Regions from separate parts of the Homo sapiens genome. Here all the other regions are reported to be linked to region 5. Evidence: microRNA targets listed by miRTarBase, many of them from high-throughput screens and not tested one by one. Region 5 holds a microRNA gene; each other region holds the end of a gene's coding sequence. Distances are between the middles of the regions.
The links. The annotated mature microRNA hsa-miR-409-3p reads GAAUGUUGCUCGGUGAACCCCU and lies in region 5 at 2,356-2,377, opposite strand. An mRNA with a match to its seed (bases 2 to 7 or 8) in the 3' UTR can be bound and repressed. Matches are read on the target gene's strand: a 7mer-m8 pairs with bases 2 to 8, a 7mer-A1 pairs with bases 2 to 7 and ends in A, and an 8mer does both.

Region 1 (5,092 bases), not on the chromosome of region 5:
TTGGGGCTCTTAGGATGTAATGAAAGTATTTTGCATATGATAAGGACATGAATTTGGTGAAGGCTAGAATGTTGTGGACTGAATTGTGTTTCCCCAAAATTTAATCCCTCACCCTCAAAGTGACTGCATTTGAACACAGGACCTATAAGAAGGTAATTAAGGTTAAACATCATAAGAATGGGTCCTGATCCAATAAGATTAGTGTCCTTATAAGAAGAGTGCTCTCTCTCTCTCACTCTTTCTCTCTCCCCCATATGAGGACATAGTTTGAAGGTGGCCATCTACAACCCAAGAAGAGAGCCCCCACCAGAAACCAAATTGACTAGCACCTTCAAGTTGGACTCCTCAGACTCCAGAACTAAGAATTAACTTTTGATTGTTTAAGCGCTGTAGTCTGGTATTCTGTTATAGCAGCCAGAACTAAGACACTACCATTTATCACCTTACTGCCACCCTATGTAGGAAGGCAACACTTTATCCTCTGCCATACTTCCTGTCATCTTTCCTTAATGTATTTTCATTTTGGCACATATTATCATCTAACTTACAATAAATGCATTTTAAACGTATTCTATTTTGTCTTCCCTTGTTAGAACAAAGTTTGTGAGGGCTTTTATTCTTTTTCTGTTTTATTATCTGCCATATCTCTAACACCTAGAAGACTTCCTTCGCTTCTTGTCTTTGGAAAAGTAGCCTTTAATAGACTGAAGAATATTGAATTCAGCCTAGGAAGTCAGGAAAGACAAACAACAGTATATAATGAAGAGCCAAAGCAAATAAAAAATTAAAATGTATATATTAATTAAAATTGAAATGCAAAGGATGTAAATCTGGTAAAAGAGTATGTCTAAATGTAGTTTTGTAGCAAAAAGTATTCTTATCAGCAGTCCATAAATTAAGGCACAGTATCTTACAGTCCTAGGTTGAGATTTTGTAAGAACAAATTACCAAGAATAATGGATACTTCCAGGAATATTCAACACATAATACTCTGCGGTCATTCCAAGAAACAGTATGTATTATTTGCTTTGCAGGAGAGTAAATACTATGAAATAATAGACGCAAATCCATTTAAGCATAATAGTTATCATATTTCGATTTATTTCCATGTAAATTGGTTGTTACATGCTGAGTTAGTACAAAGAATTATAAAAAAGATAATTAAATGCATTGAAAAATATAAAAAAATAACTGCAGCATATTAGACTACATGATTTTTAACTAAAAATCTTTGGATTGTGAAAGTACCACTTAACTCCCTATTTGAAATCTGGCCACAAACTCATTGCCAAACAGCATATTCTATACTGAATTAGATTATCATCCCACAAAATACAGAATGTGCATTTCTAAGGCATAATGTATGTTCAACAATATACTAATATATTTTGGAAACCACTAAATGTCAAGCATTATCCATACAGGGTATTAACACATTAATGTTTTCATTAAAAAAGAAAGATCTCTTTCTTCATCACATTACACATTTATAGAATAGAGATCTGTCAAATAAATTACTGCAAAGTAGTTCAAGCTAAAACTTATAACACTTGAATCATATAATCGGGAGCAAATAACCTTTAAAATGAAAGACAAATGGTGAAATTTAAGGGCATTTAATTTGCATAAATGTAATGTTAACAGTCTTTTCCTGGTTACATATTTTATGCTTAATTTATATATGTCACTCTATTAGGTCCTTAACACTCTTATAGGTCAGTTTTAATTTTTTCCAATTTTATTTTACCATAATAAGCATTATAGAAGTAGTTTGTCATATATAAAAATAAGGTAATCTCATAAAAATAATTCATTGTGACTCTAGAAACAATCCAGCATCAAGACCACTACACAGTTTTTGTGTTGTCAATGCCTGCTTCAAAATAAACATTTGCATTTTAGAATCTTGTGTGTCTAAACTCATGTTTAGCTCTTAAGCTCTCAGAACTCCATACCAGAGACTTCCTCCAGGTTAACAGTCATTGTAGCCTTGGTGTGTGGAAGTCTTAAAACAAAGGTCTTCATAAGGTACATGGTTTGGTCTTCCTTTACATTGAATAAAACATTAGCATTTGACCCCCAAGTTATTGGACTTAAAGTTTTATCCACTAAACTTCTACTATAAACACTGAAATGCATTAAAATATAACTGCTCAGACAATACTGTGTCCACTTTATCAACAAACTATAAAAACCATCCATCAATTAACTATGATTTTAATGTCAGAACTGATCCATAATCTCTAATAAATTAGAAAGTGCCTGCATTATACAAATTCAATTACAGGAGTTGCATAGCAAAATATCAATTTATACACAGCAAAATATATTTTCATTTTTGACTTTCCTTAACTCATGCTTACCTACCAGTGACCAATGAATTAGAGATGGTGAATATTACCATCCGCCATTGGAATAATTTAATTGGACAAAGCAGAATAAAATTATTTTCTCTAAGGAAACTTTACCTCCAATTATTACTTCTGCTTTTCCTTGGAAGAGTGTTTGATGGGAATGTGAGTTGGCCTCACTCATTTCAATCCAAGTTAGTGATAAAGAGACTGAGGCTACCATAGGGACAAACACTATTCTTTGTAGTTCATTTCAATCAAAATTGAAATGGCTGGATATGTTATAAGAATTCAAAACCTTTCTTAATTCTCTTTCATTTTACTACATTGCCCTACCTACGATTTAATGTTAAAATTAATGGCCATATGAATGTTTACCACACATTTGCTAGAGACCATTATAATCCATCACTTGGCAGGCACTAGAATTTACTTTTATAGATGCCAGAGAAAGCACCTAAATGGCTGGTATTTTAATTTTAGTTTCAACTTGTTTCTCAAACTCACTTTAAAGTACCTAGCTTTTTCTTACTCTGGTAATTTTTAGAGCGGTTAAAATGCTGTTAAAAGCTTAAGCATAATTATGTGTCTATGCCTATCTTTGAAGGTGATAATTTTTTCCTAGGTAAATCAATTTGCTAAATTAAAATGTGAAATTCTATGTACTTGTATGTGATTGAAAATATATGTATAAGCATGAAAACAGTAACATACAGTTCAGCCTAGCCTATGGCGTTTATTTGTCAATTATCCTGTTGGTTTGGTGGGTTTGAAGATAATCACATCAAGCTCTCCTCTAACAAAAGAAAAAAAAATCTATGAAGATCTACCTACCTATCCATCCATATGGATATAGATAAACATATTATATTGACTATCTCTGAAATAGGGAAGTCAAAAATTATTACAGTTCATCTTATACTGGAATAGCACAAAGCTATTCTGCTAGTGGTATTTTCTCATCTAAAAATTATAAAATGTGTAATTTTCATATTCTCTTTCTCCAACAAAGCTTCAGTGGAAAACAGAGCCTCTTATTGGGTAGAAATGTTAAAATTAGAGCTATTGGGTCTGAAGATCCTAAGCATTTCCAATATTCACAGCAAAACAGACCAATGTCAAGAACTTGGTTTTATTTGGATACCCGTTTCTTTCGATTATGAAAACATTCCTGAATACTTCAGAAATGGATGTATGGAAAGATATGGAAACGAATTATTTCCAGTTTTTCATTCGTTTTGTTTGGTTTACTTTTTGTGAATTTCACATCTTACTGTGTAAAGTAATATTTAGCCTTATTGATATTTCAGAGGCCTATACAGAGAGAAGTTGTGTGAAAATGGCACATTTGCTAAGTTGTTTTTATGTATTAGTTACAGATTATCTTAAAATTTTACAAATGGCTTGTAAATGTTCCAAATTACCTATGACAAAAGTATTTCTCAATTTTAAACATCAACTTACAGCACAATAGAAATAAAACAACACAAAATAATATGGTAAAATAAAATAAAACCATGTTTACCCTTCAGTACACTAAAACTAAACACATACTGATTTTTACATAAAATAACTAAGCGAATCTTCTTACTAACAAAAATGAGAAAAAAAAGTTGGCAGTTCTTTCCAACTGCTATGCAGTTACTAAGTCACATCGTACTTATTGTAGCAGAGGTCATCTGTAGGATCTAAACAACCAAAAAGTTGTGCAAAATGCCAGCATATGGCCTCTTCAGGCAGTTGGTAAAGACAAGAGCTGTACTGTGACAAAAGGGTCTCAGACTTCACTGTGGTCACTGAGTTTGCTCAAATTCTGAAATACCAGAGGAAGAAGTAAGTATGTGCTATTTACTCAACTCTTAAATTGGTACCAAAGTAAAAGAACAGTAGTAACTGAAGCAAGCTGTCCAGCTAAGCCAAAGAAAATGAACCTTTTATGAGGCATCAGAGTAGAGCAGTTCAAAGCTCCAGGTCCAAACTCAAACTGCTGACTCTGCAACCAGCTCTACCACTTACAGATGGTGTAATTTCCCTGGTCAGTTTCCTTGTTTCTAAAAATGGGTTAAATTATCATATCTACCTCATAAGGTCATGGCAAATTCAGTTAAACAACATAGTAAAGCTTTTAGAATATTCCTGGAATATAATGAGGGCACTCAATATATGTTAGATTTAATAATAATAGTGTTATTATTATTTTGTAAATACATACTGTTCTGATTGTATACAATAGGGATGACTCTGCGAGGCACCAAATGTTATTCTAGGGGTGAGGAAAGGCAAAACAATTCAAAACTCAAGGAAAAATTGCAGGAAATTAAAGCTCTAAGAACAGTTGTAAAACTAAACCATAAGCCCAGCATTTGTAAAATAACTTTGACACTTCAGATCATGTGAGCACTAGATTCTACAAATAGTATTTCCAAAGATGGCAATATAAGCTTAGAGGCAAGATATCAGAGCAGAAAAAACTTAAAAGGCCATATTTAGAGTTTTTATATTTGAGAAAGGTGGATTCAAGTCCCCAGGACAGTAGATCCTGGAAGAAGCATTTGTTGTACAAGTAAGCAGTTTGCAAATGATAGGCAACCACCCAATCCTCAGAGCGGTGGCATTGTTGGAAGATCCAAGTTATCAAACAACAGTTTATAACTGGCCTAAAAAAAGAATGGAAACATTCTTTTACCTGTAATAGAAAGTCTGAGGTGGGGTGGGGTGGGGGGCTAACAGATTTTAGATGC
Region 2 (5,092 bases), not on the chromosome of region 5:
TTTTATGGTTTTATAGATGGAGCTTAATGTAGGCTTTAGTTTTTAAAATATATCATGGTATGTTTGTGTCAAACATCAGGGATTGCCAGTACCTCTGTAAAATTTGGGAGCACTAATTTTACACATTTTGGATTTGTATTAATCTTTTACTCAGGAGACCTATTTTCTCAGTTGGCATTAAATATAATCAGCTTTTTTCTTTCTAATGTACTAGGACAGTTCGTGTGGCAATGCAGGTACCTGTTGTAATGACATCATTGGGTCAGAAAATTTCAACTGTGGCAGTTCAGTCAGTTAATGCAGGTGCACCATTAATAACCAGCACTAGTCCAACAACAGCGACCTCTCCAAAGGTAGTCATTCAGACAATCCCTACTGTGATGCCAGCTTCTACTGAAAATGGAGACAAAATCACCATGCAGCCTGCCAAAATTATTACCATCCCAGCTACACAGCTTGCACAGTGTCAACTGCAGACAAAGTCAAATCTGACTGGATCAGGAAGCATTAACATTGTTGGAACCCCATTGGCTGTGAGAGCACTTACCCCTGTTTCAATAGCCCATGGTACACCTGTAATGAGACTATCAATGCCTACTCAGCAGGCATCTGGCCAGACTCCTCCTCGAGTTATCAGTGCAGTCATAAAGGGGCCAGAGGTTAAATCGGAAGCAGTGGCAAAAAAGCAAGAACATGATGTGAAAACTTTGCAGCTAGTAGAAGAAAAACCAGCAGATGGAAATAAGACAGTGACCCACGTAGTGGTTGTCAGTGCGCCTTCAGCTATTGCCCTTCCTGTAACTATGAAAACAGAAGGACTAGTGACATGTGAGAAATAAAATAGCAGCTCCACCATGGACTTCAGGCTGTTAGTGGCAGTACTGACATAAACATTTGCAAGGGAAGTCATCAAGAAAAGTCAAAGAAGACTTTAAAACATTTTTAATGCATATACAAAAACAATCAGACTTACTGGAAATAAATTACCTATCCCATGTTTCAGTGGGAAATGAACTACATATTGAGATGCTGACAGAAAACTGCCTCTTACAGTAGGAAACAACTGAACCCATCAATAAGAAAAAGGATCGAAAGGGACCAAGCAGCTCACTACGATATCAAGTTACACTAAGACTTGGAACACTAACATTCTGTAAGAGGTTATATAGTTTTCAGTGGGAGGGGTTGGGATGGGTAATCTCATTGTTACATATAGCAATTTTTGATGCATTTTATATGCATACCAGCAATTATTACTGTGTTCGCACAGTTCTCACTTAACTGGTGCTATGTGAAGACTCTGCTAATATAGGTATTTTAGAATGTGAATTGAAGAATGGATCCCAAAAACTTCAGAAAGAGGATAGCAAAAAAAGATCTAGTGCGATTTTATATATATATATATATATATATACATACATATATATATATCATATAGCTTAAGCTGATTTAAAACAAAGGCCTTAGACTAATTTTCGATTTTCTTTCTTGAAATAAGCTAATGGCTTGTTTGTGTAAAGCTTTTTTATTAAAAGAAAAATTTTAAAAATCTTGTACCTAGCACAGTATTGTTATAGAATATACATGTAACATTTTATATGGTAGTTTAAGTCTGTCAGTTTCTTAATTGTGGACAAATTAACAGTTGGCTCTGGCCTTTTGCTGTAACATGCCTGTGTCACTCACTTAGCCTTGGCATTTGTGCAGACATACCATTTTCAGTTCTGCTGTCACTTGGAAGTTCAGGCTCAGCATGAATTTTTGGCAGGTAGCTCTAATACCTGGAGTTTTCTTTGTTTTTTTTTCTTTTTTTTAGTTGAAGTTTATGAGGGAAATACCAGTGTTCAGTTTTGAACTATAATAGTTTGTATATTCAACATTTGAAGTATATTCTATTTTGTTGTACTCTTGTTTCAAAGTGTATTCAAGTAGGTTTTCTGAAATATAGAAATGAAATTTATCTTCTGTTTTGGTCTCTGGTGATATTTTAAACAATATTTAAAAGTCAGTATAGAAGTGTTTTAGTTAGGAAGTGATAAAACATCTCTCTTCTCCTTCCCAACTACTGCATGAAGAAATTCTACTTCCATTATATTAATATTTGGCAAATATCTGCATGTTGCCAGTTTCTTTCTAATTATGATGAACTATAATGTTCTGCTTAACGTAATGAATTTAGTATTTTAGTTGGCTGCACTTAAAGAATTTATATTTGTAAAACACTTTAAACCATTTGTTTCACAATCAGACCTTTTGTGGATTAAAAAGAACAATTACTCTTCTAGCCCTTTTACAGATTAGGAAGTTAAGGTATCTGAAGGATTACATAAACTATGTAATTTTACTACTGTCTGTCACTCCATATCTTAATGCTCTTTCTACTACAAAGAAAAGTTATCTATTTTTACATGTTTTAGAAATGTAGATGAACTCATACATAATATTTTTTGTCTTTTAATTGATCACATACTACTTAGGTCAGAAATTGTTTATAACAGTTCCCTTTGTAATCTTTTAAACTTTTCCATAAATATATTGATGATACTTTTATACAAAAGCTCAAAGAAAAACTCACTTGATTATTTTCCCATTTGGGAGTTACTCTCAAATTCTGTCTCCTTTTAAAACATTTCCAAAATATTTCAGCTTTGAAAATCAATATTAAGTGCTTTGGCACTTAATTGTATTATCTTGTTTATTGCACTGTGACTTCATTTGTTTGTCATGTCTTCCATAATACTCATTTAGAGCAACGATTATATTTTATGCCATACCTACCCCTCTCCCCAAGTGCTGAGCATATTAGACACTCAGGTCAGACATTTATTGATTTTGGGAACATTTGCTGAGAATATAAGTCACATGCTTAAATACTTTGCTTCTATGCTGGATTCTTAATCGGTTCTAACAGGGTTAAACCAGGGCTATCTAGCTACCTCTGCTACTCTACTGGAAATTTTTTTCTCTTTGAGAATAAGCACATCTAAAGTCTAGACTTGGAGCCAGGTGCGGTGGCTCACGCCTGTAATCCCAGAACTTTGGGAGCCAAGGTGGGTGGATTGCTTGAGGCCAAGAGTTTGAGACCAGCCTGGCCAACATGGTGAAACCCCGTCTCTACTAAAAATACAAAAATTATCCGGGAGTGGTGGTGCAATGTTTGTAATCCCAGCTCCTCAGGAGTCTGAGGCACAAGAATCTCTTGAATCTGGGAGGTGGAGGTTGCAGTGAGCCAAGATGATGCCACTGCACTCCCTTCAGCCTGGGTGACAGCGAGATTCTGTCTCAAAAAAAAAGTCTAGACTTGGAAACATACATGTTGACAGTATATACTGATCAGAATGTTGCAGATTGAAATTAATGATGTGCCTCACCCCCATCCTTCCTGCCCTTTTAATGCTATGGCTTTTAATCTCAGCCCTTCCAAACTATAAATCAATATAATTTATAGTTGCTTTTTTGTGTCCAGTGTATTAGAGGGAAAAAACCCCACATAACCTTGGCTTGATGCTACTACATTTTCCAGCCTCACTAGATCTTTAAATTATGATCAGTAGTCTATCAATTTATTCTTTAGGCCACTTTCCAGCATCAATTCCAGCCTTCACCACCCTTGTCACCAGATAACCAGTATACCTCTACAGAGAACATGGTCATGAGCTGTGAATTCTCTCCATTCCTGGACCCCTTGTTACAGATGATTTAGTTACTCCAACATCCATCCTTACCACCTGTCTCAGGAAGGAGGTGCCCTTCCTCCTGTGCCCAGCATCTCCCTTTCACACCTACTTGGTCTCCTTGCTCCAACAATTAATAGCCTATCTTTCTGTCCCTTCTTTTTCTTCAAATAGCCTGCAGTCTGAATTCTTGCTTAGAAACAGTTCTCCATGAGATCTCCAGTAACCCAACTGTCAAATTAAACGGACACTTTGGTTCACTTAATCTCATGGCCTACTTCTCAAAACTTACTTGGTTTCCCATGTTTACTTCCTGCCTAACCAACTTGTTTTTTCTTTGTTCTTTCTGCCTATGGGCTTCTTTCTTCTTTTCCTCATAGAATTGTTGTCAGGATTAAATGAGTTAATATATTAAGGATTTGTAACTAGTGTCTGGCACATAGAAAACACTCTTATTAGACGTTTACTATTATTTCACTAACATAATTGTTAGATAATCTCACCCATGCCTATGGTTTTTACTACCAAATCTATTGTTAAAGCCTAGACTTTTATGCTGTCATTTTTTTTCTCTGTTGGAATGCTTCATGAAATTGCGTGTCATCCTTGTGCAGGGGCTGTGTTAATCTGTGTATCGTTCCAGTATTAGGATATGTGCTGCTGAAGCAGGCACTACTGTATCTTAGGTGGGTTTATCTAATTGCCACTGGCTGTTTCTTCCTGAGTATCCATTTGAGCTCTCTTCCCTCCAAAATCTGTTTCTCTTAGCCCAATAAATAATACCAGCAACCCATTACTCATACTAGAAGCAACCTGGGGGCCATCCTAGATACTTTACCTCCTCTAATCATTAACCAAATTTCTACTCATAGTACCTTCTAAATACTTTCTTTTCCATCCTCCCTGTCTTTGTCTCACCAAGTCTCTCTCTAATCCATTCTCCAGGCTACCAGTTGAGAGCTTTCTAAATGCAGCTTTCATCACTCATGAACCTTTGTGATTGCTTCAGATTCTTCAATGGCATCTCTTGCTAAAAAGATATGCCTAAGCATAGCAATTAAAGTCCTTTGATCTGGGCTCCTCCTGTCTCCCCAAGCCTCATTCTCTTGCTACTCCTCTTTTAGACTTACTTGGGCTATATTTCATTTTTTCCCAAATATTCTAGGCATTCATACCTCATGAGTCATCCATTGATGGCTTCTTTCTGGACAACTCGTTCCTCCTTCACCTACATTGGAGTTCAGTTTTATTTACTGAGATATGAGGTGACAGACATCAAAATAAAAGTTTCTGAAATAGGTGTGGAAACCATTCAGGTTGGGGAGTGATCTGTGAGTTAGCTCAGAACTTAAAGAGTAGAAAGAGTAAAGTATATAAAGATAGGTTGGGGGAGAAGAAAAAGAATCAGCAACGGATGT
Region 3 (5,092 bases), not on the chromosome of region 5:
TGGAATTAGGAGTGGCAATGACATTTTATGTTATTTCTCTAAATCATGCCTTTATCTAAAATTATTTTTCTTTTCCTCCTTTCACTCCCAACAGTGCTAGTTGCCGCAGACCAATCAAAGGGGCTGCAGGCCGGCCATTAGAACTCAGTGATTTCAGGATGGAGGAGTCTTTTTCATCTAAATATGTTCCTAAGTATGTTCCCTTGGCAGATGTCAAGTCAGAAAAGACAAAAAAGGGACGCTCCATTCCCGTATGGATAAAAATTTTGCTGTTTGTTGTTGTGGCAGTTTTTTTGTTTTTGGTCTATCAAGCTATGGAAACCAACCAAGTAAATCCCTTCTCTAATTTTCTTCATGTTGACCCTAGAAAATCCAACTGAATGGTATCTCTTTGGCACGTTCAACTTGGTCTCCTATTTTCAATAACTGTTGAAAAACATTTGTGTACACTTGTTGACTCCAAGAACTAAAAATAATGTGATTTCGCCTCAATAAATGTAGTATTTCATTGAAAAGCAAACAAAATATATATAAATGGACTTCATTAAAATGTTTTTGAACTTTGGACTAGTAGGAGATCACTTTGTGCCATATGAATAATCTTTTTTAGCTCTGGAACTTTTTGTAGGCTTTATTTTTTTAATGTGGGCATCTTATTTCATTTTTGAAAAAATGTATATGTTTTTTGTGTATTTGGGAAACGAAGGGTGAAACATGGTAGTATAATGTGAAGCTACACATTTAAATACTTAGAATTCTTACAGAAAAGATTTTAAGAATTATTCTCTGCTGAATAAAAACTGCAAATATGTGAAACATAATGAAATTCAGTAAGAGGAAAAGTAACTTGGTTGTACTTTTTGTAACTGCAACAAAGTTTGATGGTGTTTATGAGGAAAAGTACAGCAATAATCTCTTCTGTAACCTTTATTAATAGTAATGTTGTTGTAGCCCTATCATACTCACTTTTTAAGACACAGTATCATGAAAGTCCTATTTCAGTAAGACCCATTTACATACAGTAGATTTTTAGCAGAGATCTTTTAGTGTAACATACATATTTTAGAGAATTGTTGGCTAGCTGTACATGTTTTGAAAAGCTGTTTAGCTAGCTATAAGGCTATAATTGGAAATTTGTATTTTTTATTTACAGCAAAACATTTATTCAGTCATCCAGTTTGCTACCAAAATATGTTTTAGATAAGTGTGTGTATGTTTGTTTAGAAGTTAGAAATTGTAAACACTGGTCTTATGTTTCATTTGGATTCATTATTGCATTGTCTTGTTACCAGAAACAAATTTTGCCGAGCTTTTTTTGCCCTATATTTCCCAGCATAATTTGATTAGAAAGTACAAAAAGGGCCAGGCGCGGTGGCTTACGCCTGTAATCCCAGCACTTTGGGAGGCCAGGGCGGGTGGATCACGAGGTCAAGAGATCAAGACCATCCTGGCCAACATGGTGAAACCCCGTCTCTACTAAAAATACAAAAAAATTAGCTGGGCGTGATGATGTGCGCCTGTAGTCCTGTCTACTAGGGAGACTGAGGCAGGAGAATCGTTTGAACCCAGGAGGCAGAGGTTGCAGTGAGCAGAGATTACGTCACTGCACTGTAGCCTGGCGACAGAGCAAGACTCCATCTCAAAAAAAATAAAAAAGTACAAAAAGTACTTGCTTTTATATTACATCATAAGCAGTAGTTAATAAAGTTGTATACTCTTAAGAGGTGGGCATTATGATTATTTTTTATTTTTTTATTTTTTATGAGATGGAGTCTCACTCTTGTCACCCAGACTGTAGTGCAGTGGCACGATCTGGGCTCGATGCAACCTCTGCCTCCCAGGTTCAAGCAATTTTCCTGCCTCGGCAGAGACGGGGTTTCACCATGTTGGCCAGGCTGGTCTCGAACCCCTGACCTCAAGTGATCAGCCCACCTCAGCTTCCCAAAGTGCTGGGATTACAGGTGTGATCCACTGCACCCGGCCGGCATTATGATTTTGTGTACTCTTGAAATGGTTATCTTTGTGGATGATTTTTTTTTTTAAGCTGAAACTTACCTCATGAATAACTTGATTAAAGTAGTAGGTGATTAAAATTTCAATAGAATCAAATGAGACAAAAATTTTAAACTGACTCATTTGAGTTTCAACTTTACAGTCATTGACCATAAAGCACACTAAAAATGTAAGTTATTTTTAAATACATCTGAAATAAAAATACTTACTAAAAAGGAAGAAGCCGAAGATGTATATTTAGACCAGCACACAATTTTGATTTCAATTAGCCTTATTCTAATATTTAGCTTTTAGATCTTTCATACACATTTTCACGTACTTTGCAATTGAGACCAGAAAGACTTGTAGGTCTTTCTGCAGAATGAGTGGGTCCTTGCAAAGTGAGTGGGAAACTTACTCCTAGATCAGAAATGTTTGCCTCTCTGAGTAAAATGTTTCTTTCAGATGAGCCATAGAGGGGGCACCTTTTACTCAACTTTTCTTTGTTTTGAAACTTTGTTTCCCATACTGTTTTCAGCCTTTTGTTTATAATTAGAAATTGTGAGAAGCTTCATTTAGTGTTTAAAAATGTGGGGAGATAAATCAGACTTAACATGTATGTAAGATCAATTCACTTAAAAGTATGGTCCAAATAGCAAAAATAGGACCAGGTGAAACATGTAGTCATTTTTTAAAAACATGTACTTGGTCTTTTGTGTGTGTCTGTTTTATTCCATTAGAATAAATGTGTCCTTGATGTAAATGCAAAGCATTTCTTCCTGATTAAATTGTAGATGTAGACTTTACAATATAATTCAATAATAAAAAGTAATTAACCTCTAGTTTTGTCGTTGCAATAAATGGTTTTCAGATAGCACAAACTGTGATTTCTGGATAACATTTCTTATGTGATATTTATGGATTATTGTGTTTTATTTCAGTCTGTTCATATGTTTTACTTCTTATTGTAATCGGGTTCTCGTTTATTCAAAGGTAAGCAATGTGTAGCTACTGTACTCACAGAATGACATTAAGCGCTCCAAGGCACCTCTCCCACACCTAGTTCCTTTTTCCCACCACTTTTACTGTCTTTAGTATTTACCTATGACCCTTATGATTGTTAGTCTTGCTTTGAGACTAAGCCCGTGTCACTGTGATACGTCATGGAGCTGTGCTCACAAGATGAAAGTGCCATTATGTCTTCCTCATTCATGTGTCCCCAGAGGTGATTTGACTTAAATTAGTGTTTCTCAAGGTAGTATAGACACCATAATTAATTATAAGGCAAATCGCATCAAAGGCTTAAAACAACAAGTTTTATTGCATGCTTACCATGTGCTAGGTACTTTTCTATGTGCTTAATATGTATTGATTCACTCAATCCTCACGATAATCCTATGGAGTAGGCATTTTCGTAATATCATTACAAATGAGGAAACTGATGGTTAGAGGTGTTAGGAAGCTTCTTCATGTTTGCACACAGCTGAGAAGTGATGGCTCTGGTTGCATATAATATGGCAGAGGGAACCTAAAACAAACAATTCTCTGTTTACATGCTTTAAACCAGTTCTGTGTTCAGCCCTGCTCCTTTCACAACTTTGGTGGTGCCTTCTGAGTTTCAAACCTCTGAAGCGTTCTTTTGGGTAAAGTAGCTCACTCCTAGTTTTTCTTGTTTTTGTTTTTGTTTTCTTTGAGACAAGGTCTCACTTAATCTTTCTCTGTGGCTATTTAAATCTTCTGGCCAGGTATGGTGGCTCACACCTACAATTCTAGAACTTTGGGAGGCCGAGGCAGGCAGATCACCTGAGGTCAGGAGTTCAAGAGCAGCCTGGCCAACATGGCAAGACAATTTTTAGTCTCTACTAAAAATACAAAAATTAGCCAGGTGTGGTGGTGGGTGCCTGCAATCCCAGCTACTCGGTAGGCTGAGGCAGAAGAATGACCCGAACCTGGGAGGCAGAGGTAACACTCCAGCCTGGGTGACAGAGTGAGACTCCATTTCAAAACAACAACAGTAATAATAAATTTAAGCCTTATTTAATTTTGCTAATTTTTCTGTTTCTTAATCTTTTTTTTTTTTTTTTTTTTTTGACAGAGTCTTGCTCTGTCGCCCAGGCTGGAGTGCAGTGGCGCCATCTTGGCTCACTGCAACCTCTGCCTCCAGGGTTCAAGTGATTCTCCTGTCTCAGCTTCCCGAGTAGCTGGTACTACAGGTGCGCCGCCATGCCCAGCTAATTTTTGTATTTTTAGTAGAGACGGGGTTTCGCCATGTTGGGCAGGCTGGTCTTGAACTCCTGACCTCAAGTGATCCTCCCAAAGTGCTGGGATTACAGGCGTGAGCCACCACCCCTGGCCTAATTTGTTTTTGTTTGTTTTTTTTTTATCTTCCAGGCAGCTTTTTGAAGTATCTTTTGCTATCTCACTCTACCTCTTTGTCATTGTGTTAAACCCTTTTTTATTCCCTTATCAGTATTCAAGTCTCAGTAGAAATAGGCTGTAAGCATGTGGTCAGCCTGTCACCTTGAATTGATGGTCACTGAGAGCTTTTCGGGATTCACATATCCTTTCCACCAAAGATTTGGGGAGAAAGTAGAGGAGCAGACATAGGGTTTGAGTGCAAGGGGTCTCCATGTGTTTTGTTAAGTTCTCCTAATTATGGAATCATTAGTTGAATCGACAACATTTATACTATATTTACAGTGTTTTTAAATGGATTGAAATTTATTAGTTACCAAATTTTGCCACTTAATGCAACAGACATTTGATACTTTCTCTGTGGTGAATAACAATGTGTAGTTGACGGTGCTTGGGTGCAGTTTTAGAATTTTCTGTGAACTTGAGGCACTCTTTGGGGAAGTTGTTTTTTTTAAAAGCATCTGACGCTGGGTGTGGTAGCTCATGCCTGTAATCCCAGCACTTTGGGAAGCCGAGATGGGTGGGTCACCTGAGGTCAGGAGTTTCAAGACCAGCCTGGCCAACATGGCGAAACCTTGTCTACTAAAAGTACAAAATTAGCTGGGGGTAGTGGTGCACCCCTGCAGCCCCAGCTACTCAGGAGACTGAGGCGGGAGAATCGCTTGAACCTGGGAAGTGGAGGTTG
Region 4 (5,000 bases), 32 Mb from region 5:
TCTGGGTGAGCCCCTGGATATCTTAGGGGCTTTATTGTCTTTCCCAGCTTTAGTAGGGGAACTAACAAAGGCAGATAGACTTCTAAGCTAGCATTCTGTACTTTGGCTGGAATATTCCACAAGCTCATGGCTTTGGGCCATAAGCCCAAAGGAGTCATTTCCCAACTTCAGTATTTTGAAACATTAGATATCCTGTTTCCTTACAACGTGACCATCTTGCAGATAAGCACTGCTAGATCATCTGCACATTCGAGTAAATCCTGTTGTGAATTGAACAGAGTAACTCCTCTTGCTTATCCAGGCAATGTTAAGTGCAGGGCACAGGGAAGTTTAAGCTTTGCCTCTAAGCCTCCATTCTGAGAAGCATCTTACCACCACTGTTCTAACAATGAAATGCAGTTAGGATTCAGACAGGTTTTCGATCCACGTGCACTATTGCATGTGAGAAGCATCACTGAGAAATTCAAAATTACTTTTAACTATTTGAATTCATGTAATTTAATTCCAATATGAGTGCTCAAGGACAAATTAGCACTCAGATCGGAATATCCCACCTGAGAACCACACAGTTTGTTCAAAACCACTATCCTGCTGCTGCAAGGCTGGGACTCACTGAGCCTTACTTCACCTTGGTGTTTCAATCATGGCATGTTGTCTTGCTTAGGTCATGGGGGAAGGACAGTCTTCCTTTGGAAGCGTCTGTTTTCCTGACAAGCCTTGGTTGGCAAGAATTTTTCAGTTAACTGTAGCAGGCAGCTTTACAGGCAGGAGATACGAGTTTTGCTTTTTTTTTTTTTAGAAAAAAGTTTGCAGTGCATGCCTGGAGCAAGGCAGGAAATGCAATTTGGTATTTGGAAACATCAGAAAATATTTCTTTGGGAGCTGTTTGTAATGTCACTTCACTGCATTGTTCCCTCTGTTCCAACTAATAAAATTATCAGTTCCAGAGTCTCGCTATCTTAAGTCCCTTTAAACCTGTTAAGGAGAACAAATAAATACCTCCTCCTACCCTGCATTTTGTTGTCCAGATGTGACCTTTGTCCCAATACCTAAAAGTGACAATGACCATTGTCATGGATGTGGAACACTGCAGTTTTTCTTCTAGTTTTCAGCATAGCTTTCAATCAAGTTTCCAACTAGGCAAGAATTAAAACAGAAAAGAAATAAAGGAGAGGTGTCTAAGCAACCAAGTCTTCCCTGGAAGAGAAGAGGAAGACGTGAGAAGTGAATAATAGGTTTATTTGCATATACACAAGAGAAGAGTTAACCGTTACTGGGTGAGAAGGAGGTAAGGCTTCAGCAGAGGAAGGCACCTTGACAGACAAACAAGAGACTCTCAGCTTATTAAATCAAGCATAGTCACAAACTTCACTTGCCCCAAGCCAACAACTTAACTCATTTACCTGCTGTCCTAGAGAATCATTAACAAAACCAGCTGGAAAATAGAGAGAAATGATTTTACATATCTGGACCTGCCACTTAAAACTTTATGTACAGAATGCAGGAAAAAAACATAAGAGGCACTTCCAAATAGTTCTTGATCTAATCAGTGCCATCTGTCCTGCTATTAAAAATATCTATTATGGAAGAAATTGGGTATTAAATGTGCCATCAAAGTTGGGGCCTCAATTCTAAAAGAGTTTAGGCAAAGGTACTCTAGAAGTGGTTCCTGCCAGGTTTCCAGACCCACAACCATAGACACAAAATCTCTGGAGATGAGGGTGGAGCAGCTATAAAGCAAGCATTTCTCACCCTGCTCATGTGTGTGTCTTATGGGGCCTATCACCCGGTAAGCTGAGCCTAGGATGCTGGGAAGCCTCTGCCAAGGATGGAAGGCATACTTGCTAAAAATGATCTTTCTTGGCTTCTCAAGTTAACCAGAATAAACTCTGATTTCTCTTTTGAGTACCCAAATGAGATTAAGGCTTTTAACATGAAAAGACCAAGTTCTGCATTTGGGAATTGTAACTACCAAGTAGCTAGTTCCCAAGGGAACTTTAACTACTTCTTTTCAGGAAGATATGTATCCGATTGTCCTTTGAGAAGTCAGAAGAGGCTAAGTACTTATTAAAATAAAATAAATAGAATAGAATAAAATAAAGGACTGGGTGTGCTGACTAAGAAGGGGAAGAGAAACACACACTGAGTGATCGTATTTTTTTTGTATATAAAGGATTAAAAAATTCCAATTTAATACATTTTGGAAAAGCAAATGTAAAATGACTTGGGCTTATAAAACCAGCATTTACAATTATCTGTGAATAGTCAAAGACAAATCATAGAACCAATCTGATTACAAATCCAAAGTAATTCTAATGTTGGTTACAGAATCACTTTCCCACTCCCCCAGTAAAAGTCCAGGTGTTAAGTTGTACACACCCCCATGCTACACACACTCCTTCATCTCCTTCTCAGTGTTTTCATACCCCAGCCGCATTACACACACCAGGCACATCTTCTCTTTCACAGAGCTTATCAGGATGGTATCTCCTTTTGGCTTAAACCAACCACCTTGTGTTTATAAATAACCCCCCCACCCCCAGTGCCTGAATTCATCCACATCTTCTGCCTTCATAGGCAGCCTCCCCTTGGCTCCAGTTCCAGCAGGACAGGCCTTCCTCTGAAAGGAAGCCTGGGGCAGTGAGGCCACACTAGTCAGCGTTCGGCCCTCCCTACACCAATCCCAGCTGGGCTCCTAGTTGTCTAGCACCTTTGCACTCAAGAAAGTTATATTGTTTTTCTCTCTCTTCCTCATTTCTTGCCAGTATTCTGCCTTTTCATAACATTTATGCCAACAAGATATCTGGTCATTCCCAGACCTTCCTGTTTTGCACAACCCTTCATAGATAACCGAGTGACTGCAACGCTGAAAATCTGTTGCTCTTTTCTCTTCTAAACCTGTATCTACCTCAATAAAACTGAGTCTTTTATGGGAACCAGAAGACTTAAGACTAATGGGAACCAGGAGTCATAAGCCAGAGACTCCTCCCCAACACCTTCTGACTCCTAATAGACCTACTCAATAAGAATCTGTTACCTTGAGATGCCTACTGCTCTGCAAAGTCTAGTGAGAACACCACAGCCTCTATCAACTGCAAGTCTGAGGGAAGATGCCAGTCCCACCAATTCTGACCAATGGTTCTGGGTTGAGTTAAATGAATATAGTACCACATTCTGCTCCTCACTAAGCTTCTTCGTTAACACACCTATAACAACTACTTTAGTAGCCTGAGCACAAAGCTCTGGAAAGCTGTCTTTGCCCTTCTTTCACTATGCCTCGATCGATCATGGGAGCCAAGGAAGCACCTGCTGGCCTTGTGAGTGCCTCTTAGGATCTAGCACCTAACTGGTTAAAGTCTGTTATCCATGACTAGCTCTATTTTATGGCCTTCATACAGTACATGTTGCAGCACTGCTCAATTTGCAAACAGTGAAATTTATCAGGAATCTATATTCTCTTGAATCTGATCTTAAGTGCTAAACCTCTCATTAGCATTAAAAATTCTTTTTTATAGTATGTCCACATTAAATGCTCAATAAAGAAGTGTTACTTAGAGAAAACATGGAAGATTTCTTTAAGAAAGGAACCATGCTTTCCTCTCCAGCGCAGCCAATGGGCTGAAGGCCTGTTTCCATTCTCCATTCTTCCAGCATAAATCTACAACTCACTGGCAGCACAACCTGATTTAACAGGCACCCATCATCCAGACCAGAACACCTATGGCATGTAAACAGGGTGAGATGGCAAAAAGTACAAATTCATAGGTCCTTTCTGATGGAGAACTAAAAGGAAGGTCTTATGAGACAATAAGCGCACACGTGCCATTGTGCGTACACAAGAACAAGTCGAACGTCTCAACAAAGATTTACTTCCACAGAGCCTTGCGCGGCACACTACGCTCACGTCTCACTAGAAAGGAGTCACTTGGGTTATTTTTTTTTCCCCTTTCTTAACACAGCACAAGCCAATGGCCAGCTAGACATTCAGACCCGTTGTTGAATGTTGGATAGAAGGGAGCAGCATCAGACACAAAATTTCAGGCCCTGGTTTCATGTGCCTTTAATACTTGTTTTTCCTTTCCTCTGTATTCACTAAACAATTTTTTTTTTTTTGTAAGGCTACTTTTGTAGCTTTTTGTTTTCCCTTTGTATTTATCATGTTTTTAATTTCTTCTCTGAGGAGGAATTCTCTGAATCTGTATCTTCCAATTCAATTCGTTGCCTTTTGAGGCCACTGTGGCCATGAACAGCCCTGCTACTATCTGTGGCTGGGGTGTCAGTGGGGTCCTCTCTTGTTCCAGCATTGGGGGTCTCACAGGCCATTTCAGACCCGCAACAATCTTTGTGTAGGAGTGTCCCTGTCAGGGACGAGTTATCACGGTCAGTGTCTGAGTGTCCTGGGGAAGAGTAGGCCACCACCTCCAGCTCCCCCAAGTTCTGCCCGTTATTGTGAGGGTGAGGGGGACGAGGGTGTAAGCGTCCATTGTTGTGGTTGGCACAGATGGTTTCGAGGCTCCTCTCCTCACTGTCATCAGACTGGGTCCTGGGACAGTTGCCAGACCCGCTGTTGAGAGTGGAGCCAGATGCCTTGGGGACAGGAGGAGAAGGCGGCTCCTCAGCCCGACTGCTCAGGGCCTTTCCATTGAGCTTCTTGGTTTCAAAAGGGTGCTCTACAGAGCCGCTATTGCCAGTGTCCTGAGAGGTACCCTCTGGCACCTCTGCCCAAGCATGGCTGCTGTGCTCATGGCCTGGGCCATTGCTGGGAGTTCTAGGAGTCTCTTCTTTAAAAGTGTCCTTGCTGCAGCCTTCAGGTGGCAGGTCCTGGTTCCTCTGGGCCATTGCTATGTTTAGACAGGCTTCCTTACTGGAAGAAGGGGCTGGGTTGTCTTTGTGGCTGGTTCCTGCTCTCCCTTCATCTGCCTCCCCGGTCACCAAGGAGGTCTCTCCATCTTTGTTATTTGAGTAGGAGATATAAGAGTAGCGGAGCCACTTGTAAGCTT
Region 5 (5,092 bases):
TGGGGGATAGGCTGTGGCTCCAAAAGAAGAGGGGGGCTGCCACTCTGAGGGCCTGGGGGGTCCTCGGATCATTTTGGTACCAAGCCCAAGGGAAGGGGCCTGCAGAGGTGCCCTGGGCAGCGGAGTTAAACAGCTGGACTCTGCACTTGGAAATGCTCTCCCTGGCAGAGGGAGGGGCACTGGAGGGAGACCCAAGTGCCACAGGCTGGAGGGACCTAGCCTGTGGGGCGGCCTCTCCAGCAGGGCTGTGGCCCAGGGGCTGGGGAAGAGGGGTGCTGAGGGAGAGTGGGAGCAGGCAGCCCAGAGGGATGGTGCCAGGGATCCCCACTCCCATGCTAGGCATGGAGAGGAGCGGTCCCGAGGAGGAGGACAAGGGGGAGGGCAGGCACAGGCTGTGACTTCCAAGGCAGCGACGTCTCAACTAGGGGATGACGGGAGCCCAGCTCAGGAAGATCTCCCGAGCCCAGGAGCTCACTGATCAACAATGAGTGATAAAGGACAGCCTTAGCTCATTCTTTGGGGTCACTCCTGAGGTGCTCCTTGCCTTCAGCCCTGGACCCTGGGCATGGGCAGCATGTTCTGGAGTCACTAAGTCTCCAGGTCAGCTGCAAACAGGCCTCTGGTCATCTTCCTGTAGTCTGGGCAGGCCAGGGGTGCAAATATGACATAAGCATCGGGTAGCTGAGAGCCAGCCCAGCCTGGGGGATGTGCCAACCGGAAGCAAGGGCATGGCGGGTGCTCCCGCTGACACTGGAATTGGGGATGCCATTCTGTCACACTTCCAAAGCCCCCCAGAACAGAGTGGAGCTGGAAAATTAACAGGCCAAGTGACACAGGTCCTACACAAAGTCCACAGGGTCAACCAGCGCAGAGCCAGCTGCTGCCTGGAGTTGACAGCAAAGAGGAAGGCATCCAAGGTGGGATTCGATATCGGAAAGAGGTTGACTGTATAATATTCATCATATAGAAAGTGAACACCTCACAGGCAACCTATTTCAGGTACCACTGAGCAGCACTGACTCCAGGGAGGAGGCTTCTTCCACAGGGAAGGGCCCTGCCACCCACCCGCCTCCAGGATGGAGGCCAGCACAGGGCTGCAGGTGGAAGTCAAGCGCGTGCTCGGCCACCAGCCATGCCTCTGGGGGCCCACAGGGCGCGCAACCGGACCTCCCCGACATCAGCAGGTGCAGGAATCATGCAGGTGGGATCTGATACTGAAGAGAGGCCGCTCGTGTCTTGTGTGTCATGATTTCTGTGAATGCAACACAGGCCACCTCTCCTCAGGCACCACAAGGAGCAGCACACGCACACGGCCACCCAAGGCACCAGCTCCCACCCAGGGTCTCACAGCACTGAGATGAGCAGAAGGCAGCCCAGGTGCAGGGAATGCATGCAGCCGCCCCCAACATCCTGGCGAGGGGTGGGTGGCCTTCCAGCAGGATGCCTTCCAGCGGGACTAGCTCCCCCGTGTCCTCTGCCTCGATGACACTGGCCATGAAAAACAGACTGAGCCCCGTCACCATTGCTCATCAGCTTCATGACCGCCCCCCACCACAGTGCACAACCCTAGCATCTTCCCCAAAGTCCACATGGCCCCCCGAAAGCTCTCCCAAAATGATTCAATGGCGGGGGTCAGGGGAAAGGATGACAAATGTCACACCAGCCCATGCATTCACGTACCCTGGAAAGTCCCGCCTCAGGCGTGGCGCCCGCACACCACCGGGCGGTAGCGGTACTGAAAACAGGCCATCTGTGTTATATTCGTCATTAATAAAAGCGAACTCATCACAGACAACCTCTTCTCAGGTACCCAGAGTGCCATCGGCTCAAGAACGTGGCTGCCGCGTCCCGTGGTGCCAGCGCTGCCCCCGGGAAGCAGTCCTGAGGACGGATGGGACATCAAAGGTGAGAAGACACAGAGACAGGAAAGAGACCCCTGCCCGGCCCACTCTCGGTGACCAGGCCCCACTGAGGCAGCGACTCCAAAGCACCCGTCCTGCTCCTACCCTCAAAAGGGCTTCATCTCCAACGGGTCCTCCAAGGTGAGATTTGATACTGAGAAAAGATCAACCATGTATTATTCGAAGTCAATAAAGCGAATATAACACGGTCGATCTCCCTTCAAGTACCAGGAAAGGCGCTGAGCTGAAGCGCGATCGGCTCCCCGGCCCGCAGGCCCCACAGGCTGCAGCGGATACGGACGGCTAGTGGACCAGGTGAAGTACATTAGAAACAATTACTTTCCAACTGGTCGACCATCCATCCCCGTACCCCAGAATGGTGCTGATGCCGGCGTCCTTCCCCGAGGTGCCCCAGCCTCCAAGACGGCCTCCCTGGTGGAATTTGATACCGAAAAGGGGTTCACCGAGCAACATTCGTCGTCCAGATGCAAAGTTGCTCGGGTAACCTCTCCCCGAGTACCATGGAGAGGCTCAGATGCTCGGACTAAGGTGAATGCTTGCAGGCGGCTGTGCTTGCAGAAGACCCTCCCCCAAGGGCAGCACAAGGTCTGGGCATTCAGAGCCCAGAGCCTCACACTCTCCAAGGACGTTCCCAATCACCAAGTCCAACGATTCCAACCCCTTCCAGAATGAATCTAGAGACTCTTCCCAGAAGTTGAGTGCAAGACCCAGGTAGGATCTTATACTGAAAAGACGGCAACCTTCCTTGGGCACCTTGCTAAAGATGAAAATGAAACCCTGCTCGCACCCGCTTTTCATTCCCAGACCCTGAGAGGGGGTGACCCTGTAGGGACCCCTGCACAAGCACAGAGCCTCCCTCCCAGCAGAGGATTCCTTTGGCGGGAGCTCAACGGGGCACAACGCTGACCCCAGACCTGCGGTCTCACCAGCACCATCTCCAGCCCACAGAGGCATCACCCCAGGATCCCTCAAAGAGTAACTTCACAGTTATCAACAGCTGGCTGACCATCTGATTAGCCTCATAAAGCAAGTGAGACATTCAAAATAAGGGACTGGGGGGATAAATGCAGCAGAAGAAAGCAGGTGAGTCACAGATGTCTTCTCTTCACAAGGGTCAGGGCAGCCCTGACCTCAGAACCCAACCTTCCCCAGACTCAGAGAACACCCAGAAGGTGCCTCCTGGAGCGGGCAGCCAGCAAGCATCGGGCCAGACGATGGATGCCACAAGCAGAGTCCAGATTCTGTGCCCACCACCCATTCTGTGAACTTTGGAGTGGGACCGACAGCAGAATCCTTTCCCTGACGTTGGCATGAGCTCAGAGAGCCCTCTGCGCCTTGCTACAAGTGGAGCAAGAGGCCAGCCATGCGAGGCCTGCTGTAAAGAAAGAAAAGATGTCACAGACGACTTCCCTTCAGGAGCCATGGGCACTGACCTGCATCAGAGCCTCCTTCCTGGGGCAGGCATCACCTCCCAAGGTGGTCCCGGAACGCACCGGAGTCAGCAGGAGTGGAACAGATGACATGCACCGTGGGTACAATCGGGCCTGTCCCATGGGCGGCCCTCAGGCACCTGCCCTGGAGAGGGCTCCGGCTGCAGGCCGCCTCCTGAGGGTGCTGTTGCTTCTGGAAATTCTCCAGGTAGGGTTTGATCTGAAAAGAAAGCCATGTGCAATGCTGGTCACCAACAAAGCAGGCCAGCAAACAACGAGCTCTTTCCACAGCCCCAGCAAGGTTTTTGACCTTGGAAACATCAACTCCAGAATGACTTTCAGCCTCTATGACCAAATGACATTCGGCACCAACGAAGGGCACGTCCTTGGGGCCAGCATGGAACCATGTAAGGTATCAACAGCAGAGTCTGAGGAAGGACTGAACCCCAGAATGTTCCTGGATGCCTGTGTGTTCATCAATAGCCTTGGAAGTGTGAAAGGAAAGTTATCTCGGGCCCCTAAAATCACTAAGGAAAACTCAAGCTGGAAGCTGCTCAGGATAAACCTGCCTCTCATTCCATTCAAAGTCATCCCTCTGCTCACTGAGACAGATGCGTATCTGATTTGCCTCCTTTGGAAAGGCTCATGAGAAACGCGAAAGAATGTAATCATTTGTGTATCACCTGTCTGTGACCTGGAAGCTCCCTCCTTCCTGCCTTCGCTTCAAGTTGTCCCACCTTTGCAGACAAAACCAATGTACTTCTTACATGTGCTGAATGATGTCTCATGTCTCCCTAAAATGTATAAAGCCAAGCTGTGCCTTGACCACAGTACTTCCTGAAGCTGTGTTACGGGTGTATCCTCAACCTTGTCAAAATAAACTTTCTAAATTAACTAAGAGCTGTCTCAGATTTTCTGAGTTCACAGAAGCAACTGTCCTGAAAGACCAGACCCCACTGACCGTAGAACTTCTGCTTCCCTCCGGAGTCAGCGTCTCACCCAGAACCCTCCGTGGGGATGGAGGGAGACCAGGTGATGCCTGTCACTTACGTATGAATGCTCTGGGGACAACATGCACCCAGATCCCCGGGAGGACGCCTTACCAGTGTGTCACGCCTGAAGTCAGCACACCTTTCCGGGAAGCTCTCGGGAAGGTTTGGGGCAGCAAGAAAAGATCAACTGCATAAAGGGGGAGACTGTATCCCATTTTTTGACCCTAGGTTCCTACTGACCCCACCAACTCCACTGTAAACACGCACAAATGTAACCACCTTCACAAGAATTGTACCAACACTGATATTCATAGAAACGTGTTTTTCAGAGCCAATGCCATTATACTAATCCAATTCCCTGTTTAGCTTTCCTGACCGCGCTGTTGAGCTGTTTTCATTTCTCTTATTTCCCTTGTTATTTTCCCCAAATCATTTTCATTAGGATCAATTTTTTCCATTTAAAAATCTGCATGAAGATTTGATTCCTCAATGTGTTCTTGTCTACATCAAATATCACTGTTTATCACCGCCGCCACCGTGAATTTCCTTCCATGGCTGCCACGTCGGCAGCTTGCTATTTCCCCAGGTCAAATGTCACAGCTGAAATGTTGTCAAGAAAATTGGATTCCTCTGCCAATTTGTAGTCAACTGAACACATTTAGCACTGTGCCGTTTCAGCTGTTTTTAGTTTTATTTTGTGTTGATTATTTTTATCAGTATTATTTAATACAAATGGGATGAGATACTG
Region 6 (5,079 bases), not on the chromosome of region 5:
TCGGGAGTTCGAGACCAGCCTGACCATTGTGGAGAAACCCCATCTCTCCTAAAAATACAGAATTAGCCGGGCGTGGCGGTGCATGCCTGTAATCCCAGCTACTCCGGAGGCTGAGGCAGGAGAATTTCTTGAACCCGGGAGGCGGAGGTTGTGGTGAGCTGAGACCAGGCCATTGCACTCCAGCCTGGACAATGAGTGAAACCCCGTCTCAAAAAAAAAAAGAATGTTAATAACAATACTTCATTAGATAGTTTCTTGTTGAAGCAATTTGTAATTCCCGGAAAGTTGTTAGCCATGCTTCAAGTTTACAAATAGGTGAAGTTTTAAGGTATCTAGAGTTTAAGTAGTTGGATTGGTTTGTCTGGCAAAAGTAAATAGTTGGGATGTAAGGGTAAATTTTTGAAAATTACTCTTAACGTTGTAAGATTTTAGATGCATGCCTTTATGCTTGGTGAGCCTCTGCATTCGAGTATTTAGCCCTGCGCTTATTTTTATTCCCAGGAAGAGAGAAGGGCACAGTTACCTAAGTATCAACGTAATCTTCCTCGGCCAGGACAGGCCCCCATCGGTAATCCACCAGTTGGACCAATTGGAGGTATGATGCCACCACAGCCAGGCATCCCACAGCAACAAGGAATGAGACCCCCAATGCCACCTCATGGTATTCCTCTTTTTATGTTTTTCATATTTAGTGGATTTTCTAAGTTCACGCATAAAATATTAAATTTATCTGCAGCATACGTTGCACTTAAAAGTACAATGCGTTAACAATCTATTTTTTTGTGTTTGAAATTCTTGATTTTAGGTCAGTATGGTGGTCATCATCAAGGCATGCCAGGATACCTTCCTGGTGCTATGCCCCCGTATGGGCAGGGACCGCCAATGGTGCCCCCTTACCAGGGTGGGCCTCCTCGACCTCCGATGGGAATGAGACCTCCTGTAATGTCGCAAGGTGGCCGTTACTGATCTTACTTCATCCAGTCTAATAGGTTTGGAGATTAAACCTTTTCTCAACTTGTGCTGTTTATATAGCCAAGCTTCCGTCAATAAGGCTTCATTGTGACTTTAACAAACATTATCTTCCCACATACCAGGAACTATTGGACATTTATTTTACATGGGAAAAATTATTTGGAATAATAAAGCAGGAACTTTTCCTGAAGTTGCAATTTATACTGTATGGCTTCTTTTTCATGTTTCATCTAGGTTTTTAGAAGTGAAGTATAGTAAATTTGGTTCGTTAAATTGTGAAGGCGCTGGAATTACATGAACATACCACCCTAGTAAAGGCAAGTTCTGTAAGCTTACATTGCTATTTGTAAAGTTTGCCTTCACAGCATTTCAGATGCTGTTGGACTTCATGTCCCCAACCTAGCTTGGTGAGGGCTGTAACTGTTTCCAAGTACTTGTACATTGGAAGTCTGAATGTGTAACAATATTTAATGTATTTAGAGTTCCTCATGTTGCAGGGTTTAAGAAATCTGACCCACCAAGGTCATGTGACTTTTCTGTACTGTTAAACTTCATTGTAATAAAATGAGAGAAAAATTTATGCCTTTTTATTCATAACCCAGCTGTGGACCACTGCCTGAAAGGTTTGTACAGATGCATGCCACAGTAGATGTCCACATAATAAAATTCATAGTTACCAATGCAGTTTTGATATATCATTGGATTCTGTCTTTGAGTTGTAGGTTATTTCTTAGCTGCATGTTTTAAACTGAATTTGCATAGAGTTGTATGTTAATGTTTCAGTTAAGAGAAAAACTTAAGATACATGAGTCATTACATAATGGGTATGAAATCTTTATAATCACCCTTCCACCCTCTATGGTGTCAGTACACATCACGTGTCATAGATACTTAAAATGTAAATGTTAACACTTTTCCTTCCTGCTGAGATGTTTAGAGCCTAGTGCCAGACCCATTCATTTCCTTTTGATTATTTTTGAGACTCAGTACTGCATGGACCTCAGAAGCTTTTCAGGTGCAAACTTCTAGAAGCTTAGGTGCATGCAGTAATAGCTTCTTGTGCTGTTAATGGGTTATTATATATTATTCTAAGTGTAATGCTGAGAATCTAAATGTGTCTCTGTTGGGATGGTTAACAGATGAATTGGCAATTTTTATTATGTTCCTGGAAGATTACATTATTCATTTGAGTACCTTCTGTTATTAAGCCTAGGTAGCCTTACTGTGCAACTTTTTATTTATCCTTGGAAATTTTGAATGTTGTGTTCTTACAGAGAGCTTTTCTGTAGAGATGACTGCTATTCAATATTTTGTGTTGCAACCTCTTAAAATAATAGCTCTTGTTGACCTTTTTGGGATCTGTTTTTCTGATCTTTTGCAGGGTAGTTTTATGATTTTTTAGGCATCAAATAACCTATGCAAAGTATTAATATAATGAACTCAAGTTGAGTTTTTCTCATTATAAAGTTAAGACTTCTAAGAAAATGGTAACATTTCTTTATAACTTTCCTGTGAAGGTATAGATAAAACACATGAAGTCTGAAGTTGTATGGAAAAAAGGGCTTTAACTTTGAAGGAAAATATATTGAAAAGTGATTTAGCCATCACAAAAGAGTTCGTATTTATGTGACAGATGAAAGTCATACCTTTAAGCAAAACATTGCAAGTATTATAAAGCTGAATGCTATTTTAACTCACATTGGCTGGGTGCAGTGGCTCACGCCTGTAATCCCAGCCCTCTGGAAGGCTGAGATGGGAGGATTGCTTGAGTCCAGGAGTTTGAGACCAGCCTGGCCAACATGGCAAAACCCCATCTGTACAAAACATTTAAAAATTAGCCAGGCGCGTTAGTGTGTGTCTGTGGTCCCAGCTGCTCAAGAGGCTGAGGAAGGAGGTTCTTCCTCCTTCCGAGGCTGCGGTGAGCTATGTTCACTCCAGCCTGGGCAACAGAGCGAGACTCTGTCAAAAAATAAATTAAAATATCTGATTATCTGGCTTCAATGATTTTGGCTCCTGTGCTTGTGGTACCATAGTGGTACAAAAATTTTCATAGTTTGAAAATAAAACAGGTATTTTGCCAGTAATGTATTTCTTTCTGCCAGCAGCCAAGTCCCAAACCACTTTCCCCTCTGAACCTCTGCTTACCTAAATGGTTTCAAAATTAATACATGCTGCTTTGATTTGGCAGCACACTTAATATACTGCTGAAGGAAAACTTGTGTTGAAAGTCTTTAAGATAAAAATGGTGTGATAGGCCGGGCGCAGTGGCTCACGCCTGTAATCCCAGCACTTTGGGAGGCCCAGGCGGGTGGATCATGAGGTCAGGAGATGGAGACCATCCTGGCTAACACGGTGAAACCCCGTTTCTACTAAAAATACAAAAAATTAGCTGGGCGTAGTTGCGGATGCCTGTAGTCCCAACTACTCTGGAGACCGAGGCAGGAGAATGGCGTGAACCCGGGAGGCATAGCTTGCAGTGAGCGGAGATCACACCACTGCACTCTAGCCTGGACGACAGATTGAGACTCCGTCTCAAAAAAAAAAAATGCTGTGATTAAATTTAGAATAATTAAGTAAGGGGTGCTCTCCCAAATTCTCAGGAATTTCATGTATACGGTTATTGACAAACTGCAATAGGGTTAGTAGACCTGTTTCAGAAATTATGTGAAGCTTTATTTGCATTTTATGCAAAGAAGGTTGATACTTTGTAGCAAGGTTTTTTGCTCTCTGTATAGGTCTGATGGGCAAAAATGGAACTTTTAAATATGGGATAGAATTCTAATTAAAAATTAATTGAAAGTGTTAGGCATTGGCAGATAAAACTTAAGCTCATGAGTTCCTGAGTTTGTAGCTATAGGCTCAGAGGTGGTGTACCCATTTAATATATTTGAAGTGTAATTTTTGCATGCATCCAAACGTAATTAAGCTTCTAGAAAATACCTTTTTTCTAAATGCTTCTGGGGTCCATAGTGTGGTTGAATTATGAGTGGAGCAAATTATATTCATATAATTAACTCTGACTCAACCTTCCTTAAGTAGTAGATGAAGTTGAGTCAAAGTGGATGCCAACTGCCCTCACAGAAGACAACTTTTGGGACTTGATAATTCAGGCAGGCATTGTGATTGTCATAATTAAGGAAGCTGTAAGGTTAGTAGGGCTGGCAACTTTGGCTCTACCTTACATCCACCCCTTTTAGAAAAACAAGAAAACATTTTGTCTGGCACTAGTTTCTGTTGTATAAGTTTTCATACTGTTTAACAAGACCACAGCAGGTAAGGATTAATTTTTGAGTGGCTGCTGGAATTACTTGATTTGAATACTTAGTATTTTAGTAGTGTCTCACACATTTGCCATTAGGTATGAATAAAATATTCCTACTGTACTCCTATTCCACTAAGTTACATTTTGAACTTAGACTCACCTTAATTAAACTTAATTAATTGGGGAGGGGGATTCCCCAACAAAAAGAAGTACGGGCTCAGAGTGGAATTGTAGTGGACAATAGTTAAAAACAAAGCTGCTCCTTTTGCTTGCTTGATCATTGGGATTTTTAAAAAAAAAAATTTTAATGCATGTCTTTTAAATTAATTGGGAACTGTTTTTCTAAAATTAAAATTTTCTTCTTCCTATAGCCCTGCCATAGGACAGGCTGAGGCTGAGTCTCAGTGTTGCCCTGTTCAGTCTGAGGCAAGTGGGATTTATTTTATTCCTTATAGGGGCTTTCACAGCTTTATGGCTGTTGGATATTTATGTCCCCAAACTTGCAGCAAGTTTGGTGAAGGCCCCTAAATTTAATTAAACTTAGGATTTTTATACTCTTTTGGCAGAGAAGGCTCTATATTAATATTCACGTTTGACTGTGGTGTTAATAAACATAAGTATTTCATATGCAATTTTATGTAATTTGCTGTGTGTTACATAATTAACAGCTTCAGTAAAGCTTGTGTTCCTATATTGAACTTCAATAAATTGACAAAATTTGATATTTTTGATTGGAGGCAAGAAATGTTTCATTCAAGTTTTTTACTTTCACTTCTAGGAAAATCTTACTGGTTTTATTTTCTCCATAAACTATTAAATTTAACCTCAAGGATAAGTTTAATCAT

Region 1: miRTarBase lists SLC26A7 as a target of hsa-miR-409-3p. Seed matches in the 3' UTR shown: 7mer-A1 at 2,696-2,702, 7mer-A1 at 1,633-1,639 and 7mer-A1 at 1,438-1,444.
Region 2: the mRNA of ELF2 is a reported target of hsa-miR-409-3p. Seed matches in the 3' UTR shown: 7mer-m8 at 1,875-1,881.
Region 3: miRTarBase lists TMPO as a target of hsa-miR-409-3p. The part of its 3' UTR that is shown has no 7-base or 8-base seed match.
Region 4: the mRNA of DCAF5 is a reported target of hsa-miR-409-3p. Seed matches in the 3' UTR shown: 7mer-m8 at 4,000-4,006 and 8mer at 2,314-2,321.
Region 6: miRTarBase lists ZNF207 as a target of hsa-miR-409-3p. Seed matches in the 3' UTR shown: 7mer-A1 at 1,072-1,078.

What each region holds. Positions count from the first base shown.
Region 1 is chr8:91,394,134-91,399,225 of GRCh38, reverse strand. SLC26A7 (solute carrier family 26 member 7) reads right to left here. Exons shown (of 19, transcript NM_052832.4): 19 at 1,071-4,164. The coding sequence ends at 4,129. Among named protein-coding and RNA genes, the nearest start is that of SLC26A7, 150 kb to the right of the region's middle.
Region 2 is chr4:139,054,730-139,059,821 of GRCh38, reverse strand. ELF2 (E74 like ETS transcription factor 2) reads left to right here. Exons shown (of 10, transcript NM_001331036.3): 10 at 215-2,557. The coding sequence ends at 839. It also overlaps the pseudogene RNU6-531P. Among named protein-coding and RNA genes, the nearest start is that of NOCT, 41 kb to the right of the region's middle.
Region 3 is chr12:98,547,479-98,552,570 of GRCh38, forward strand. TMPO (thymopoietin) reads left to right here. Exons shown (of 9, transcript NM_001032283.3): 9 at 95-2,873. The coding sequence ends at 380. Among named protein-coding and RNA genes, the nearest start is that of TMPO-AS1, 34 kb to the left of the region's middle.
Region 4 is chr14:69,049,702-69,054,701 of GRCh38, forward strand. DCAF5 (DDB1 and CUL4 associated factor 5) reads right to left here. Exons shown (of 9, transcript NM_003861.3): 9 at 1,180-5,000. The coding sequence ends at 4,156. Among named protein-coding and RNA genes, the nearest start is that of ACTN1-DT, 73 kb to the left of the region's middle.
Region 5 is chr14:101,062,631-101,067,722 of GRCh38, reverse strand. It overlaps MIR409 (microRNA 409), which reads right to left and starts at 2,423; the gene lies at 2,345-2,423. It overlaps MIR541 (microRNA 541), which reads right to left and starts at 3,228; the gene lies at 3,145-3,228. MIR412 (microRNA 412) reads right to left here and starts at 2,276; the gene lies at 2,186-2,276. MIR369 (microRNA 369) reads right to left here and starts at 2,125; the gene lies at 2,056-2,125. It also overlaps MIR410 and MIR656.
Region 6 is chr17:32,368,794-32,373,872 of GRCh38, forward strand. ZNF207 (zinc finger protein 207) reads left to right here. Exons shown (of 12, transcript NM_001098507.2): 11 at 502-661; 12 at 806-5,079. The coding sequence ends at 966. Among named protein-coding and RNA genes, the nearest start is that of ZNF207, 21 kb to the left of the region's middle.